Homo sapiens: one gene and its partner. The protein of the gene in region 1 interacts with the protein of each later gene in a pairwise test. Each region holds a gene or a part of one and is shown in the gene's direction. Other genes may lie near its edges.

The links.
Region 2: the proteins of NFE2L1 (region 1) and CD6 interact in a two-hybrid assay, tested with the Homo sapiens proteins (one large-scale study listed by BioGRID and IntAct).

Annotation. Positions count from the first base shown.
Region 1 is NC_000017.11:48,058,265-48,062,045, forward strand, and holds the end of NFE2L1 (endoplasmic reticulum membrane sensor NFE2L1), read left to right. Parts: intron 1-30; coding exon 31-1,377; 3' UTR 1,378-3,281; downstream 3,282-3,781.
Region 2 is NC_000011.10:60,977,965-60,981,980, forward strand, and holds part of CD6 (T-cell differentiation antigen CD6 isoform 1 precursor), read left to right. Parts: intron 1-4,016.

The DNA of each region.
Region 1 (3,781 bases):
GTGAACAGTGGTGCTCTTCTCCCCTCCCAGGCCATGGAAGTGAACACATCAGCAAGTGAAATCCTGTACAGTGCCCCTCCTGGAGACCCACTGAGCACCAACTACAGCCTTGCCCCCAACACTCCCATCAATCAGAATGTCAGCCTGCATCAGGCGTCCCTGGGGGGCTGCAGCCAGGACTTCTTACTCTTCAGCCCCGAGGTGGAAAGCCTGCCTGTGGCCAGTAGCTCCACGCTGCTCCCGTTGGCCCCCAGCAATTCTACCAGCCTCAACTCCACCTTCGGCTCCACCAACCTGACAGGGCTCTTCTTTCCACCCCAGCTCAATGGCACAGCCAATGACACAGCAGGCCCAGAGCTGCCTGACCCTTTGGGGGGTCTGTTAGATGAAGCTATGTTGGATGAGATCAGCCTTATGGACCTGGCCATTGAAGAAGGCTTTAACCCTGTGCAGGCCTCCCAGCTGGAGGAGGAATTTGACTCTGACTCAGGCCTTTCCTTAGACTCGAGCCATAGCCCTTCTTCCCTAAGCAGCTCTGAAGGCAGTTCTTCCTCTTCTTCCTCCTCCTCTTCCTCTTCTTCCTCTGCTTCTTCCTCTGCCTCTTCCTCCTTTTCTGAGGAAGGTGCGGTTGGCTACAGCTCTGACTCTGAGACCCTGGATCTGGAAGAGGCCGAGGGTGCTGTGGGCTACCAGCCTGAGTATTCCAAGTTCTGCCGCATGAGCTACCAGGATCCAGCTCAGCTCTCATGCCTGCCCTACCTGGAGCACGTGGGCCACAACCACACATACAACATGGCACCCAGTGCCCTGGACTCAGCCGACCTGCCACCACCCAGTGCCCTCAAGAAAGGCAGCAAGGAGAAGCAGGCTGACTTCCTGGACAAGCAGATGAGCCGGGATGAGCACCGAGCCCGAGCCATGAAGATCCCTTTCACCAATGACAAAATCATCAACCTGCCTGTGGAGGAGTTCAATGAACTGCTGTCCAAATACCAGTTGAGTGAAGCCCAGCTGAGCCTCATCCGAGACATCCGGCGCCGGGGCAAGAACAAGATGGCGGCGCAGAACTGCCGCAAGCGCAAGCTGGACACCATCCTGAATCTGGAGCGTGATGTGGAGGACCTGCAGCGTGACAAAGCCCGGCTGCTGCGGGAGAAAGTGGAGTTCCTGCGCTCCCTGCGACAGATGAAGCAGAAGGTCCAGAGCCTGTACCAGGAGGTGTTTGGGCGGCTGCGAGATGAGAACGGACGACCCTACTCGCCCAGTCAGTATGCGCTCCAGTACGCCGGGGACGGCAGTGTCCTCCTCATCCCCCGCACGATGGCCGACCAGCAGGCCCGGCGGCAGGAGAGGAAGCCAAAGGACCGGAGAAAGTGAGCCTGGGGAAGAAGGGGGTTTGAAGCCCACCAAGACCGAAACTGGAGAAGGGCTGGACCTGGACCTGGACCTGGACCTACAGCGGGGACTTAAATGCCTTCTTATCCAATATATCTTCTCAGATGGGATGACTGCGGGTCAGTGTACAGGAAGAGGCAGGCACTGGCTGGCTCAGCTCCACTCGGGTGGAGTGGAAGTGGCCAGACCATTTAGACGGACAGGGTCCTCACCCTACCCCTTTCCTGTGAGGCAGGGGTGGTGGTGGAGTTGCTGGAGGTAGAGGAGCTATGTGGAGCAAAGGCCGACAGAGGGGAAGGAATGGACCTGTGAGAGGAAGGGAAGGTGGCAGAAAGTCTCATTTCAGGAAGGAGGGATAGAAGGAAGGAAGGAAGGAACCCCCCCCCCCCCGAAAAAAAAATCAAAGCGGGAAGAAAATCAGAGGGAAGGTTAAGGTTGGCTCTGGCCAGGATTCCAGGCAGCAGGTTGGAGTGACTGGTGGGCCTAGATCACTGGTGTGATAAACCCCAATTTTCACCCCGGGGGGGGTGGGGTACACAGACACAGGGTGGGGGTGGGGAGGGACGGTGTTAACTCTTTCTGCTCCTTGCATTTTGACATCCCTGAAGGGGAGCTCTTGGATATCATTGGCCATGTTTCAATCGAATGGAGCCACTGGGCCCCAACACTGGCTTTGAGATTTAGAGTCAAAGGGTAGAGTGAACAGGAAAGGGTCACGTGGTCCCATGTTGCAACAGCCCCAACATCACGCATGTCATTCACTGCCTTGCCACTCCATCTCCCTCCGTGCTCCAGCCACCCCTGAGCTGAGGCTCCCATTGTCTCCATCAGAGCCTGCATGTGTATGCCGTCCTCCCCTGGTCCGGTGTTTGTGTTCCCCACCCCTCACAGACTGCCTGAGCTCTTCTGTAAGCTGGGGTAGGGTGATGGCAGTGCTCCGGGAACTGGGCCTGCAGCCTTCCTCTTCTGGGACTGCTGTGAGGCAGAGGAATGATGGAGAATCTAGTGTAGCAGCCTCCAGGCAGGATTCAGCACAACACTGGGGAGTCACCCTTCCCTCGGGCCTCTGCCTACCAACAACTGGGCTTATCACTGGGAAAACACAAAAAATTACACAACCCAGCAACAACAAAAGAACTAGTCCTCTTAGAATTTCTTGCGCTTTGATTTTTTTAGGGCTTGTGCCCTGTTTCACTTATAGGGTCTAGAATGCTTGTGTTGAGTAAAAAGGAGATGCCCAATATTCAAAGCTGCTAAATGTTCTCTTTGCCATAAAGACTCCGTGTAACTGTGTGAACACTTGGGATTTTTCTCCTCTGTCCCGAGGTCGTCGTCTGCTTTCTTTTTTGGGTTTCTTTCTAGAAGATTGAGAAGTGCATATGACAGGCTGAGAGCACCTCCCCAAACACACAAGCTCTCAGCCACAGGCAGCTTCTCCACAGCCCCAGCTTCGCACAGGCTCCTGGAGGGCTGCCTGGGGGAGGCAGACATGGGAGTGCCAAGGTGGCCAGATGGTTCCAGGACTACAATGTCTTTATTTTTAACTGTTTGCCACTGCTGCCCTCACCCCTGCCCGGCTCTGGAGTACCGTCTGCCCCAGACAAGTGGGAGTGAAATGGGGGTGGGGGGAAGCACTGATTCCCAGTTAGGGGGTGCCTAACTGAGCAGTAGGGATAGAAGGTGTGAACCTGGGAGTGCTTTTATAAATTATTTTCCTTGTAGATTTTATTTTTAATTTATCTCTGTGACCTGCCAGGGAGAGGGGAGAGAGAGAGAGATGCTGTTGAGCACATGACAAAATAAAATAAAATGGATGATTCATTCTTAAGTGCACTTTTTCCCCACTTTGAATTTAAATTGAGAATAAAGGAAATGGACTCATTGTAGGGAGGACTGGCCATTGCGTGGCTAAGGCAGAGCTCACATGGGAAGATGGGTGGAGAACTGGGGAGGTTGACAGTGGGGAACTTCAAAAGGCAAGTCTTAAATATTGTATTAAACCTTGGGGGCAGGCATTAGACACCATGTACTTCATAGGGTTAGCCAGCTCAATCCTCTCAGGAAGGATTCGGAGTTTTTTTATTCTCATACAGCTAGGATAGGTGGAGGTGTCATTTAACCCAGCTCTTTACCTGTCCACCTGCTACAAACTACATTTTTAAACTCAACTGTGCTGTTATTTTTCTATTGGCCTCACCTGCCAAAGGGGTGCAGAGAATTGGAGTGTAGTTATGATGTTGAAAACCTGAGAAATCCATGGCAGCGACTAACATGTGACAAGCACTACTGTGTTAAGCAGGAGCAGGGCCACTAAAGAGAAGCAGGAGGCCAAGGTTTAGGACACTGGGAAACCTCCCCAGCTGAGGGGGCTAGAATCTGCTTTCCC
Region 2 (4,016 bases), on another chromosome or scaffold:
ATTTGCTGCTTTCCCTTTCCTCAAAAGGGAGGGCTGTAGATGTCAGAGAGACTTTAAAGACTAACCCCATGGGAGATTTCCTCCTCCAAGTCTGTAATTAGAAAGGCTGAAAGGGAAATAAAGAGTATGCATAACTTCCTCATCATGTAATATAGTGGTATATAATGCCAAGTCAATGACCACCTAAATCAATTTTGCATAGTTTTGTGTATGTGCCCTAGACTTTGAAAACACTGATCCAGAGAAAGGACAAAGGGGGTGGGCATGGTGTCCCCTGACAAGACTGAGCCTGGGGACGCTGACTGCTCTGCAGCCTGGGGTTACGTCCTACACATGAGACCCCCATTTCAGGGGCTCCCCAGTACCCTGAGAAGTCCCTGGATTTTCCCAGTGAGCCCTGAGGTTGGGGGGCACCCGAGTTCACCTCCCTTGATTCCGCTCTGGGAATCTAGGCCCCTGCAGCCTGGGGAGGAGAAGGAACCTTGAGGAGGGGTGAGGTGGGTGTGGACTTTGAGAACTAGCTCTGGTCCTAACTTGCTGGGGAATCTTGGTCAAGTTCCTTCCTTTCTCTGGCCCTAGTTTCCTTTCTGGAAAACTGGGTAAATTGAACACTAAGGACCCAGCCTAAACATGCTTGTACTTTATGTATGTTCCTTGAGGCTTTACAGGTTATGGAGCAGGGCATCTGGCTGTACGCAGCAGAGACCCAGCCACTAGACACTTAGCCCTAGGAAGGGCACTGTATCAACCCCAGCCGGCATCCTGTCGTATAGAATCATGGACCCCGGAGTCAGGCAGACGCGGGTTCTGAATTGCATCTCTGCATGGCCCCAGGGTGGTTTCTTTGCCTGCATGCTAGAGATAAAAATCCCCAACTCACCAAAGTGTACAAGTTAATGTAGATGATGCATCTGAAAATAGCCGAACAAAATGCAGTGCTCAGAAATGTTAGCTTATAAATGCTCTACAGCAAGACCAAAGATAATCCCTTGCCTATGTGAATACAGGACTCGGTGGTTAACATAGTGCTGTTTGCACAATGAGCTCCATCACCCACATGGTGACCTCATTTTATAGATGAGGAAACTGAGGTTTAGCGAGGCTAAGAGACTTGTCAGGACCTGAGCTTGGGTCTCCCAGCCAGCAGGCTGGTGCTTTTTCCATTGTGTGGGAGTTGCCTGGCTTGTTTCCAGCCAGCTGTCCTGTGGGCTCTATTCTAGCATAGGGTTTCTCCCCTAAATGCAAACTCCTAGCCTTGCAGCCTCACCACTGAATCTAGGAACAGCCCTGAGGGACCTCTGAGGTCCTAGGGACCCTGGAAGTCTTCTTAGCAACAGATGGGGTCAAGTGTGGCTGCCTCCCTCATCATGGCACGCCCTCATGGGGTTTGCCTGGGGGTTGCCCTGCACCTTGGGGCCAGCAGGAAGGCAAAATTAAAGAGGCACCATGAGCCAGGGGAGAGCTTGCTGGGCAGCAGGCTCCATATTTTGTTTTGTTTTCTTTTTTTTTTTTTTCTTTTTGAGACGGAGTCTCAGTCTGTTACCCAAGCTGGAGTGCAATGCTGCGATCTCAGCTCACTGCAACCTCCGCCTCCCAGGTTCAAGCAATTCTCCTGCCTCAGCCTCCCGAGTAAGGGGACCATAGGCACCCACCACCATGCCCAGCTAATTTTTTTGTATTTTTAGTAGAGACGGGGTTTCACCATTTTGGCAAGGCTGGTCTTGAATTCCTGACCTCAGGTGATCCACCCGCCCGCCTCAGCCTCCCAAAGTGCTGGGATTACAGGTGTGAGCCACTGTGCCTGGCCTAGGCTCCATATTTTCATATTCATTCAGTACCTGCTGAGTACCAGGCCCTGTGCTGGCACTGCCATAGGACATGAAGGTTTGCCCTTGAACAGTTTATAGTGTTGTGGTAAGACACACCAGCACCACCCCGGGATAGGTGTGGCAACAGGCACAATCCAGTGACAGCTGCAACCACCACCCATTACCAGGGACTTAATATTCTCCAAGCACCAGCTATGCATATGCTGTTCCACCCTGACAACACCAGGACAATCACCCCTTTTTTATGGGTGGAGAAACTGAGGCTCAGAAAGTTATGTATTTTGTCCCAGGTTGGTGGCTAATGCTGAATTTAAATCCATGTCATGATATGTCACCACTGGGGGAAGCTGACTGATGGGTACACAGGATTTCTCTTCACTATTTTGGCAACTTCTTATGAGTCCATAGTTTGAAAATAAGAAGTTAAGGGGGAAAAAAGGATTTCAGCCCTTTCTGGTGACTCACACCTGTAATTCAGCACGTTGGGAGGCCGAAGTCCAAGAGTTCCAGAGCAGCATAGGCAACATAGTGTGACCCCCACGTTTACAAAAAATTAAAAAGTTAGCCGGATGTGAGATTCATGCCTGTAGTCCCAGCTACTCGGGAGGCTGAGGCAGAGAATGACTTGAGCCCAGGAGGTTGAGGCTGCAGTGAGCCATGATCTCACCACTGCACTCCAGCCTGGACAACGGAGCAAGACCTTGTCTCAAAAAAGAAAAAAAAAAGTATTTCAGAAAGAAGGACCCATTTGAAGGCCGGGTGCAGTGGCTCACGCCTGTAATCCCAACACTTTGGGAGGTCAAGTAGGGCGGATCACTTGAGGTCAGGAGTCCGAGACCAGCCTGGCCAATATGGCGAAACCCCGTCCCTAGTAAAGAAATACAAAAATTAGCCGGGTGTGGTTCGGGGGATGGGGGGCACCTGTAATCCCAGCTACCCGCAAGGCTGAGGGAAGAGAATCGCTTGAAACCGGGAGGCGGAAGTTACAGTGACCCAAGATCGCACCACTGCACTTCAGCCTATGCAACAGAGTGAGACTCTGTTTCAAAATAATTAATTAATTAATTAAATTGAAAGAAAGACCCATTTGAGCAGAAACCTGGAGGTGGGACAGCCTACGAGGGCCCGGCTGAGGGGAGGTGCTGACCAGCCAGTCCGGCTGGTCCTGTTGGGTCATGTTGGGTAGGCAGGACTGAAATTCCCAAAGGAGCTGAGGTCCAGGCTCTTTTCTGCCTCCTGACCCAGACTGGTGTGCCATGAGGATTCAATGAGCGCCAAGCACAGGGACTGGCCCACGGAAGGTGCGCCACAAAATGTACATTTACAAGTGTTAGGCAGGCAGTACAAGGATCACGTCCTCCAGTGCAGCACTCTGCAAATACGTAAACCTGCCTTCTCCTCGTCACAGCCCTAAGGAGGTATGCGCTACTATTTAATACTTCCATTTTACTGAGTAAGTGACAGGCTCAGAGAGATAAAGTGACTTTTCCTAGATCGCACCACTAATAGATGACAGATACTTGGTTTTACCTCATGACTCCAAATCCGTTGCTTTTTCCCAGCCCTGGAATTGGGTAGGGTTTGGGCCGGGGACCCCTCCCCACTCAAGACTCCTGCAGGAAAGGTCCGCCCTTCCCCCAGGGACTTTTCACCTCACCCACCATCAGCTGGGCCGTCATGGAACTTTATGGAGCCTGAGCTCTCCTCCTTCAGGCTGAGTGGCCATGCCCAGCCTTCGTTTCCCCGGCTGTAAAGCAGGGCCAACGGGAGCTCAGAGCTGTGTGGGGCTCCCCAGATGTTGGCGGTGACATGCTTGGAGAAATGCCAGGCTCCTTAGGGTGTTAGGAGAGACCTGTGGCCACAGCTGCTGCTCCGACTGGGACCGGGCAGGCGCTCCCAGGGACAACAGACGGAGGCAGAGGGAAGCCCAGGTTCCCACCCTCCATTTTGTAGGCTCCTGCAGCCCGAACGCCTTCTGCCTGAAAATGGCGGCTGAGAGAGGCCAGGAGGCAGGATGCAGGGCTGAGGAGGAAGCTCCGGGGCTGGGTCTCTGGTCCCTGGGAGATGCTGAGAGATAGGGAGATGGCCCTGTCATAGGAATGTGGTCCCCTGTTTTCCCTTGTATGGAAGGGTGCCCCTGGGTCTCCACCGTGTGCTAGGGGGTGGGGGCACACTCAAAAGTCCGGC